2 separate regions of the Homo sapiens genome follow, and region 1 is linked to region 2. The links come from fine-mapping of genetic effects on plasma protein levels. Region 2 holds a variant in brackets. A gene starts in the other region. All regions are shown on their reverse strands.

Region 1 (5,358 bases), not on the chromosome of region 2:
CCCGTTCCTGGATGGCCAGGCATGCCAGGAATGGCCCCAGCTGTTGGCCTGGCCCAGAGCGGCTGGAGCATCTTCCCTGGGCCCCACCCTCTCTAGCTGCTGCGGGCTTCAGAGAAGGGATGTGGAAGAAGAGGCATGGAGGCAGCTGTCCCCTCCAAAGCACGGTGTCTGGGGCTGTCCTTCCACTGTGGGAAGAACAGTGGCCTGGGAGCCACTTCCCTTCTTGGCCTTGGTCACAGTCACCCGAGCTAAGAGCCCCTGCCTGGCCCCCAGGGTGCTGCTGACTGTCTCCCAGAGACCAAGGGGCTCCCAAAACCCAGATGCAGAAGTGGGGACCTTCCCAGCAGGCTGGGGTTCTCTGTGAGTCAAGTGTGCTGCCCCAGACCTCAGCCGCCTCCCAGCTGGGGTGGGGTCCCAGGTGTAGAACCAGCAACTAGGGATGGTGTAGGTGCAGCAGGGCTGAGAGGGGCCAGTTCTGAAGACACCCTCCGGGTGGGGCTGAGTGAGCTCAGCAATCAGAGGTGGCCCGAGCAGGGGAGCAACCCCTCACTTGTAGAAGGCCCTGATGGGCCCACGCTGCCTGCCTGGGGGCTCACCAGGAGGCGGCCCAGGACCCCAAGGCTGCCCAGGAGAGCTCACAGTCCTGAAAGCTGAGCTGCTGGGGGAGGGGCAGGCAGGGTCCTGACACTGACATATTTTGCCTCACAGTGGAGTGAATTTGAGCCTTGGCGATAGTCCCCTTGCCATCTGGCCCCCACCTCCACCACCTCCCCCAGCCTCCAGCTGTCGGGGGAGGGGGTTATTGTCCCCCAGCCCTGGGCGAGAAAAGAAGGGACAGTGAGAGGGAAGGCTTCTGAGGAGGGAGAGGTCCTGCCTGCCTCCCCACCTGCCACAGAGCCCCCTGGGGCCTTTTGAAAGGCAGACACTCCCAAATCCAAAGGAAGAGGTCTGGAGGAATGTTTTCACAGGCGCCAGCCTCCCCACCACCATGCCCTGGGTTGGGGTGCCAGGGAAGAAACCCTGTCCCCAGAGCAGGTGGGGAAGGGCCCTGGAGGCATGGAGCCCCCCAGCCTGCGCTCCCCGGCAGAGGGCTGAGGGGTGGAGGGCCGGGGGGTGAGCACGCATGCTGAGCCACTGTCTCCCCCCACCACTGTCTCCAGATGGGGGAGTCGGGGGTGGCAGGAGCCGTGGTGCCCTCAGGGGCAGCTGCTGGAGGGTCTGGCTGGCCAGGCGCCTGGTCAGCTGCCAGGGGCTGAAATTGGAGCCAGCTGGAGCTGGGAGGCCTGTGGGAATGAGGGGACTCAGGAAGCCCCTTCAGTGGGGGCTGGGAAAGGAGTGGCTTCCCTTACTCACTGTGTCCAGCACTCCCTGACCACCCCAGGACCACAAGAGCAATGAATACTGTGAGCACCGCTAAGCCCTTTATGTGCATTCTCTCTCGAATTGGCCAGAGAGAGGCTGCCCTCTTGTACCCAGTGACGTCCCAACCACAGCCGGCCATGCCCCAGCCCAGCCCAGTCCCTGGGGGCTGAAGCCACTGAGGCCACATCCTCCATGTCTAGGTCCCCCTAGGGTGTGAGGAGACGTGGCTCCAGCTAGGCAGTACCCATGTCGGGTGTGGGGGGCTGAGGCCTGGGCTTCCTTCCACTCTGGCTTGCTCCCACGTTGGAGAGACCACGGTGCCAGCAGTCCAGACAAGATTTTTAGGGGCAGAGTCCAGCAGCCTCTGGGGGCTGGGCCCCCAGGCCTGATCACCCCAGGCAGCTGCGGCAGGGTCCCAGGTGAAGCCCAGGAACAGAGCCCCCAGGGCTGCCACACGCCACTCTGCAAGGCCGTGTGTTGCGACCTGGCTCGGGCTGGGCCCTCCCAATCGAGAAGTAGCCGTGAGGGTGAGTTCCTGGGGGCAGGGCCTGCAGCCACCCCTGCTGGCCAGGAACTTGGGGTGGGGGGTTTGGACAAAACCCAAGACTAGCCAGGGGTCCTGTGCCCACCGCAGGGAGTCCCTATAGAAACCTGGCCCCCAGCCCCCCAGAGAGGGGCACTCCTGCCGCTCCCCCCTCTCTCTGCTCCACTCAAGACTGGCAACCCCCAGACCCCGGCAGCGGTTCCTCCAAAGAGAGGGCACGGCTACCTGGGTGGCCCCTGCCTGGGGTCCCTGACCCCAGCAGCACTCTGCAGTCCTGGGGGTGATTCCACCAGATGGAGTGTTTGGTTACACTCACTCCCCACAACCCCTGGGGTGCTGCCCCCAGCCCAGGGACCCACCCGGAGCCACTCCGCTCACAGGCCCCCAAAGGCGACCAGGGCCAGTGGTTCTGGGGGAGACCTGTGCGGCTGCAGTTGAAGACACTGTCCCGCAGCGTCGAGGGAGGCAGCGGGGACCCCCGCAGGTGCCGATGCCTTACCTGGGCCAACAGCCCGAGGACGAGGAGGAACGCGGCGTCCATCGGGGCCGAGGCGGGAGCCGGGCCGGAGTGCACCCGCGACCCGAAGAAGCGCGTCCAGGCTGAGTGACAGCGCAAGTGCGCGGGGCGGGCCAGGGCCAGAGACAGAGACAGCACGTGTGAGGGGGGCGGGGAGGGGGCGGGGCAAGGGCTGAGTGACAGCACGAAGGAGGCCTCTGACGGGCCGAGGGCCGGCCTGGGCAGGGCTAAGGCTGAGTGACAGCGTGTTGGCAGGCGGGTGGGGCGGAGCCTCTGGCGAGCTAGGGCGGGGCGCAGGCTGAGTGATAGCCCGTGTGCGAGTGGGGCAGGCGGGGCGGGGCCGGGGCCGAGGGCTGAGTGACAGCGCAGGTGCGCCGGCGGGGCGGTGACCGCACGAGGCTGGTGGGGCGGAGCCAGAGGAGGATGGGGCGGGCGGGGCGGGGCCGAGGGCTGAGTGACACCTTGTGAGAGTGCGGGGTGGGGCCGGGGTGGGGCCGGGGCGGGGCCGAGGGCTGAGTGATAGCTTTTGCGGGGTTCCGGCGGGCAGGGCCAGGGCTAGGTCGGAGATACCCCGGCTTGCTGCGTTGGGAGCAGAGCCAGAGGCCAGGCTGTGGGGAAGGCAGGGTGGGTGCGTCCGGGTCAGGGACCAGCTGGGATTCCTGGCTTCTTCATTTCCTGCTCCTTGGGCCCGGCTCGCCCCTGCTCCAGGGAATCTGCATTGTAGTCCCTGCCGGGGGACACCTCTTGAGCACTTCCTTGGGCCCCTCGCCTCTCTGGCTGCGTCTCCTGCGCCTCCCCGCATCCCACTGAACGCTAGGCCCGCCTTCCACGCACCTCCTCGCGACCTCATTTTGCCCAGCTCTTATTCAGTATGGAACTGCTCTGGTTCACACGCCTCTGATACCAGCGTGGCTCGTAGGACACCCCCAATTCCCCCAGTCCACGCACCTCCTCCAGCATCCCCTTGTTCCCCGAGGCCCCCTGCCTGGAGCACCTTCCTTCCTACAGAACTCCTTCTCATCATCCCTCAACACCCAAGGTCAACGCTGCCGCCTCCTGGAGCCTCCTTGCCACCTCGGCCAGAAGCCCTCCCTCCTGTTGACTGTGGCACCTGTTCTCCCCTTCGAGACCCCGCCCCCTGGGATGGTGTGGGTGTGGCTCAACACCTGCACAGGCCCAGCGCACGGTCAGGAAGGTCCTGGAGAGGGGGTGGAGGGGGCTGGAGGCAGGAGGATCCTTTCTTTTGAGCAGGCAGGGTGGGGAGTGGGGGTTGCCGACCAGCCCAGGGCCGGGCCGGGGAGCCCGTTCCTCTCTGTGATGGGAGCAGACCCGGTACCTCTGCTCTCCTGTCGACGGCGGGTGGCTGTGCAGGTGCAGGCAGCATCTGTGCACTTGGCCTGCTTGAAAGGAGGCCAGGCTGCCCGGGAGGCTCAGGCCAGGACTGTCCCTAGCGCTCACTGCTCCAAGATGAGAGAGGGCAGGGAGTCCATCTCCAGACTGGGAGGCCTCTGGGGCTGGGGTGTAGCCTGTTGGGGACCACCATCCTGCCTCTGTGGTCAGTGACCTCAAAATAGGGGTGGAGAAGCCCTCTGAGTGCTTTTGGTTTTCATCCTCACGGGACTAGTGCAGGGGTGAGGTAGAAGTGCTCGCCCTCCCCCCAGAAAGAGGTCTGGGGAGGCTGCGGTCTGCCAACCCCAGCTCCTCTCCGCTTCCACCCTGCACCCACCTCGCTTCAGCCACCTGCCTCCCACCCACCTCGGGGAGAAACGGAGGCCAAATCCCTCCTCCATGGGATGTGGGGGTCTCTAAGGGAAAGGCTAAGCTGGGCCAGGTCCTGGGTGAGCCCCAAATGCAGGGCGGGGCCAGGGAAGCAGCCGGCTTAACCACTGCGGGAGGGTGTGCTCCCTGGCTGGCGGGCTATCCCCCAGGGGCAGGTGCCCCCGCGAGGGACCCCGCTCCACATGCTCCCAGGGCAGCAGGAAGGTCAGGAGGCAGGAGCCTGGGTCCAGTCCCAGCTCGGAGCCTTGGGCTGGAGGTTCTCCCCCGTGCCTCAGTTTCTCCTTGTGTCAGAGGTAGGTGGCAGGGAAGGGCTGGGTACCCTGAGTCTGGAGGTCCTGTGCAGTGGGGGCAGGGGTACATTTTCGGCTGCAGGACCATCAGCCCTAGAAGAGCCCTTCCCTTTCCTGGTGGACCTGGAGACGCCGGACCCTCCCTCAGCACCCCAAGCCTCCAGCTAGGACCCCACTCTGGGCCTTCTCCTCCTTTTTCCAGAGTCTGCAGTCCTGAGCCTTTGGGACTCACCCCCATCACTCCTGCCCTCTGCCTTGCCCACCTCAACTCTCCACCTCGGGGGACGCACCTCATGGGCATGAGGTGGGGGTGGGCCGGCCAAGATGTAGAGGGGGCTCCCTGGTCCACAGCCTCAGTTCCCATCCTATTTCCTCTCCCCAGTATGAGGAACGGGGGGACAACAAACAGGGTCCCGGACCCCCCAGGAGCCTTGCAGTCTTGGATGTCCCAGAGGTCCCCCCACCCCCAGCCCTTGGCCACTCCTCCCAACACCGCAGGCAGTGGTCGAGGCTGGGCTAAGGAATTTCCAACTTTCTCACGATAGATGCAGGCGGGTGCCGGTTTTCAGCTGAGATGCCATGGTGTCTGCTCTGGAGTGATTCTGTAATTGCACAGTGCAGTAACGGCACTTGACCCTTGATTATTAAATTGTATTTATGTAATTACAGTGTATAAATATACATGCACACCCCAACCACTAAGGGGCAGGCGTGATGCGGAACGCTGCGGTTGAGCAAGGTGGGCTGGACAGGGGCCCTGTGGAGGCCCAGGGCTTAGGCCAGTCACAGCCCCGTTACCGAAGAGGCAGTGGGGGCTGGAGGGCAGGGGTTAGCAGCTGTGAAGGCGGCTCCTACCCAGGGTGTGG
Region 2 (5,358 bases):
ATTTCCTGGAGGGTGATTCAGCACCAGGACACCTGCTGAGGGTTTAGAATGGGAGGAAGTGCCATGGGTCATGTCAGGCAAGGTTGGGGGAGACAGGCACAGAGAGGCCGAGGGCTTGCTCGGCCTCACGGTGCGTAAGAGGTGGGAAGGTTTGGAGGGACGCCTCCAGTGGAGGCAGGGCCTCCTGTGTTAGCCACAAAGCTGAGTTATCTGAGGGGGCTGGGAGCCAGGCGGGCATGCTCACATCCAGGTTCAGAGGCTGGGCCAGACGAACACCTGCAGGGACAGGGCAGTGCCTATTGGGCTGTATGCTGGGATCTGGCTTGAGAGAGAGGTCTGTCCTGGTGGGGCCTAGCCAGTTGGAAGAGCCTGCATGTCACCAGGGTGGAGGGCTCCAGCCGCAGGAGGGCTGTGGGGGAGTATTACAGGCAGAGCAGGGCTGATGCAGATACCCCAGCGGGGAGTGTGCTTGGAGTGTGTTGGAGCAGAAAGCCCAGCAGGGCAGGAGTAGAGGGAGCATGGGGCATGAGGACTGGCGAGGGTGTGATGAAATGTCACTGGGTGGGTACAGGGGAGATCGAGGTAGTACCCAAGCCAGGCTGAAGCCCCAGTTTGGAGACAGGCAAGCTTGGAAGGCTGTTTTGACCCCTCATTTCTGGAGCACTGGGCAGAGCAGCAGGACGGCGCCTCAGTTGCCCGGGAACTTGGAGTGGTTGCCAGGAAGAGTGCCTCCTGTTGCTAGGGCAGCTGCCCTGGTTGCACTGCATCAGTTGACTTACAGAGGGTGGGCTCTATTGTCAGTGGGGGAGGGTGGGCCCTGTTGCTAGGGGGCGTAGCTCTCTGCACAGCTTCAGTTACTGGTGAAAGCAGGTCCTCTTGCTAGGGGTGTGGCCTTGGTTATACAACTCTCAGTTACTGGCCAATGCTGGTCTTGTTGCCAGGGAGGGTGGGCCCTATTACCAGGGGCGTGGCCAGGATGCATAGCTTCAGGGACCTACCGGGAAATGCGGGTCTTGTTGCTAGGAGAGCGTTCCTGGTTGACACCTCCCTCCCCACCCCAGGCCTCCTGGATGCTCCTGCTGCCAGGCAGGTCCAACTGATTTGAGCCTCAGTTTGTTCCTCTGTGAAATGGGAACGCTTTTCCCCTTGGGTGACTATATGTTGATAGTAAATATTACGTGACTCATCCACACCCATCCCTGGCCCCAGCTCACCCACGCCCTGGGAGCTCTGAAGCGGGAAGCGGGAGGGGTATGATGGATGAGAGCAGATTCTGGGTGACCGTGGGTGGCGGTTGCCCTGCACCTAGGCTTTGAGCTGCTGTACCAGCCCGAGGTGGTACGTCTCTACCTCTCCCTCCTCACGGAGAGCCGGAACTTCAACACCCTGGAGGCTGCCGCCGGCGCTCTGCAGAACCTCAGTGCCGGCAACTGGATGGTGAGGGACCAGGTCGGGCAGGGTGGGCAAGTCCTGAGAGAGGGAATCCCAGGCACCTCACTGGTGCAGCTCCTGCCTCGGCTGGCGGGGAAAGGAGGGGCCACACCACCACCCCAGGATCCAAGAGGTGTATGGGCTGCGGGCAATGCGTGCACCCTGGACGGTGGGAAAACCTCGGTGGAGGTGCCGTTGAGCTTTTGGGGTAGGGCTTTGTCGGGCACGGGAGCAGGAAGGTCCAGCTGGAGAGAGCGGTCAGCGTCTGGAGGTGGGAGAGTGCCTGGCATGTATGTCTGAGCAACCCTCTCCCCGCCTCCGCAGTGGGCCACGTACATCCGCGCCACAGTGCGCAAAGAGCGCGGGCTGCCGGTGCTTGTGGAACTGCTGCAGTCTGAGACCGACAAGGTGGTGCGCGCCGTCGCCATCGCTCTGCGCAACCTCTCGCTGGACCGGCGCAACAAAGACCTCATCGGTGAGGACGCCTGCAAAGCCCACGCCTGGGCACCGAACTGTGCCTGCAGCTTTGGGGTCCCATCGGAGGGGCTTGGAGGATGAGTGGTTTGGGAGTCCAGGCCCCGGCCCTCTCGCTTGGGCGCTGTCCCAACTGGAGGTAGCTCCAGTCCCCCCGGCCCTGTCTCTGAAGCTCAGCGCCCTGCTCACAGGGGCTCCTGTGACCGCCTGCACACAGGCGGTCTCCAGGGGCTCTCCTGGCAGTGCCCCTCGCCCTCGCGGGATCCCTGCTCCTTCCTGGAGAGGTGGGGCAGAGGTGTGTTCTGACACCTAGTCCTGCCCCTCAGGGAGCTACGCCATGGCTGAGCTTGTGCGGAATGTGCGCAATGCACAGGCTCCGCCGCGACCGGGGGCCTGCCTGGAGGAAGACACCGTGGTGGCGGTGCTCAACACCATCCACGAAATCGTGTCCGACAGCCTGGATAACGCGCGCTCGCTCCTGCAGGCACGCGGGGTGCCAGCGTTGGTGGCTCTCGTGGCCTCCAGGTGTGGAGGGGCGGGGTCGGTGGCTTGGGGAGCCG[C/G]GGAGGTGGGGGAGGGGCCACCACTGACCCCGCCCCCGGCCCCACAGCCAATCGGTACGCGAAGCGAAGGCGGCGTCACACGTGCTGCAGACAGTGTGGAGCTACAAGGAGCTGCGTGGTACCTTGCAGAAAGATGGTTGGACCAAGGCGCGCTTCCAGGTGCGGCTTCCCTGGCCTTCCTTCCATTCCCTGCTCACTTTGCCTTATTCCCACTCCATGTGCTTCACCCACCCTGTGTCTGTGTTTTATGTCTCAGTCAGCTGCTGCTACTGCCAAGGGGCCTAAGGGAGCACTGAGTCCTGGGGGCTTCGATGACAGCACGCTGCCACTGGTGGACAAGAGCCTTGGTGAGTGGTGGAGCTTAGGGAGCCTAGAGGGTGGCGACCCCAGCTGCCCCAGTTGCCTGACCCTTGGGTGAAGGTGAAGGAGGAGTCAGGCCTCCCACTGAGACGGCTTCCATAGGCCACTTTCCCTGCCCTCTGCCTCTTGGCTACTCCCTTCCCACAGCATCCGCGCTGTTGTCAAGCTGGGGTGAGGCTGCCAGCTGGCAGAGGTTGGGCACCTTAGTGACAGAGAGCCTCTAGGGCTACCTGGGCCAGCCCTGTGTGGGCTTCTCTGCCCCGATCCCCCCTGGCTGCCACATGCAGCCCGTCTCCTCCTCCTGCCTTGCAGAGGGCGAGAAAACTGGCAGCCGGGATGTGATCCCCATGGATGCGCTGGGCCCAGGTGAGTGCAGATGCAGTGTGGTTGGTTTTCTGTGCCGGGAGGGGACCAAGGCCTGAAGTGGGCCTGCTGGTTTTATGGGGTGTAGATGGTGCTGGGTGGAGGAGAGATATTTGGTTTAGGGGTGCTTAGAGGGTGAGGTACAGGGCAGCTAGAGAGGGATTAGTGCTCAGCCAGGGGCTCTGACCCACAAGTGGAGGGGAGTCTGGAGAGTTGGCAGGGTGTTGGTGAGAGCTGGCACCAGCCTGGATCTCCAGGACAGGGTGGGTGGGGGCTGTCTCCCAAAGCCCCTGTCCCACGAGTCCCCTGTGTCTGGGCTGAGAGGGAGATCTGCTCCTACAGGGCCTCCCTCAGAGCGCCCCTCATGCCCCACCTTACCCCATCTACAGACGGATACTCCACGGTGGACCGGAGGGAGCGGAGGCCACGGGGCGCCAGCTCTGCAGGAGAGGCCTCTGAGAAGGAACCCTTGAAAGTAAGTGGTCATGTGGCTGTGGGCAGGTCCCCGGTGAGGCCCCGTGTCTAGGGGTTGCTGGAGAGCAGCCTAGGCCATGCTGGGTCTGGTCTGGGCCCTGGGGTACAGCTGGGTTGTGGGGCCAAGCCCAGGAAGCAGCCCCTTCACGCCAGTCAGTCTGTGGGTACTGACAAGTTTGCAGCTCCCACCCACTGGGGACAACACTGCCCGGCCACACCCTGCATGGGCCAGAGCCTGTGAGCTAGTGTGTGTGCACCCTTCTGTGCATGTGCGTGTGAGAGCCCACCAGGGTCCACCAGCGATGGCAGGACCTGCTGCCTGCTGTGTGCCAATCCCCTGGCTTCCTGTGCAGGCCTGTGTGTGTGCACGTGCCCGCCCTGGGCCCGTGTGAGCCACACGTTTCCGGCTCCCTGCGCCCTTGGTGCTACCTGTGCTGTCCTGGCAGGCCAACCCTTACATCGCCAGCCTCGGCCCTGCCCCTGCCCTGTCCCCCCAGGAGCTCTAACTAACCTGCTCTATTGTGCCTCTAATGCCCACCCGTGCGCTGCAGCTCGACCCCAGCAGGAAGGCCCCTCCCCCCGGGCCCAGCAGGCCCGCGGTCAGGCTGGTGGACGCCGTAGGGGACGCTAAGCCTCAGCCCGTTGATTCCTGGGTCTAGCTTGCATGCCTGGTACGTTCTCTCATCTGGTTGTTCGTCCACCTGTTCCTGCCCTCTGGGCCAGGGCTTCTTGTTAGTCTCCGCTGCCTGCACGCTCTGCTCTTCCCGCACGTTCCCCGCAGGACTTTGGCCTCCAGTCCAGCAGCCCAGTGGCCCATTCCCGGAAAGACCAGGCAGAGGTCAGAGAGGGAGGGTGCTCCCTGGGCCCACAGCCCTGTCCCAGGCACTGTGGGATCAGGGGCCTGAGGAAATGGGACCAGAGTAGGGATGGGCACCATACCCTCCAACGCCCTTCGGGGACCAGCAAGTCAGGATCAGCCCTGGTGCCAAGACCCTTGGGGTCAGCCCACACCACCCAGGGCAGATGCTTCTATCCACATCTCCATCCATGTAGCCTGTGGAGTTGGCTGCCCTGCCCTGAGGTTACACGTGGTCCTGTGCCACTCAGTGGCTGCAGCGTCCACCATCCCCTTTCCCTCTGCAGGGCCCAGGCCCAGCCTCTTGTTCTTAGGGCTTGGATCGTGGAAGAAGGGCCACCCTGAGCAGATCGTGCCGTGGAGCTTGGAGCCCCCTGGCGGCAGGGGTTGGCAGCGCCTCGCCCCAGCCAAGCCTGACTTTGGGGACACCCTCCTGCCCCCCCACCCCACTCCCCCCATCCTACCTAACTCCCTAGGCCTGAGTTAGCTGTTTACTGACATGGTGCTGTGTGTGAGCGAGTGACAGAAGGCCCGAGGAGGCCGACTGGGCTGCTGGGGCAGGGCCCAGGGAGGTGGCAGGGAAGGGTGCCTGGCTGGGCTTTGGGGCTGGTGGGATAGGAGGGTGCCCCTGGGAACACAGTGCCCCAGTGGTGCGGGCCAGGTCTGGCGCCAGGGGCAGGCAGCTAGGCAGGGAGGGGGCTGGGAAAGAACTTGGACTTCTAAAGGCGGAGGGTCTCCCTGGGCACCCTGCAGGCAGGCAGACCACGGTGTGGGGGGTGCCCCACAAGGCCCAGCCCTGGGCAAGGAAGCTTTGGAAGCAGCAAGGTGGGGGTCAGGCTA

Direction of the effects. Alleles are on the strand shown, and positions count from the first base shown. The strength of an association depends on the size of the effect and on how common the allele is.
For the plasma level of the protein whose gene starts at base 2,531 in region 1, allele G in region 2 goes with a higher level than allele C (weak association).

What was found. A credible set is the group of variants that fine-mapping cannot tell apart. PIP is the chance, under the fine-mapping model, that this variant and not a neighbour inherited with it causes the effect. The UK Biobank Pharma Proteomics Project read protein levels with antibody pairs (Olink). The fine-mapping took linkage between variants from a reference panel, not from the people measured, so its PIPs are less certain.
Region 1: it holds the start of CDH15, and the variant in region 2 is the best candidate, but not a certain one, in a credible set for the plasma level of the CDH15 protein (UK Biobank, PIP 0.72).

Annotation. Positions count from the first base shown.
Region 1 is chr16:89,168,921-89,174,278 of GRCh38, reverse strand. It overlaps CDH15 (cadherin 15), which reads right to left and starts at 2,531. Exons shown (of 14, transcript NM_004933.3): 1 at 2,406-2,531. The coding sequence starts at 2,447. It overlaps LINC02138 (long intergenic non-protein coding RNA 2138), which reads right to left. Exons shown (of 3, transcript NR_046200.1): 3 at 5,132-5,358. RefSeq lists a silencer at 2,456-3,095.
Region 2 is chr22:19,970,191-19,975,548 of GRCh38, reverse strand. ARVCF (ARVCF delta catenin family member) reads left to right here. Exons shown (of 20, transcript NM_001670.3): 12 at 1,310-1,437; 13 at 1,756-1,906; 14 at 2,232-2,430; 15 at 2,513-2,624; 16 at 2,722-2,812; 17 at 3,138-3,191; 18 at 3,578-3,663; 19 at 4,214-4,333; 20 at 4,806-5,358. The coding sequence ends at 4,321. Among named protein-coding and RNA genes, the nearest start is that of MIR4761, 9.1 kb to the right of the region's middle. The variant C/G (reference allele first, on the strand shown) is at 2,466.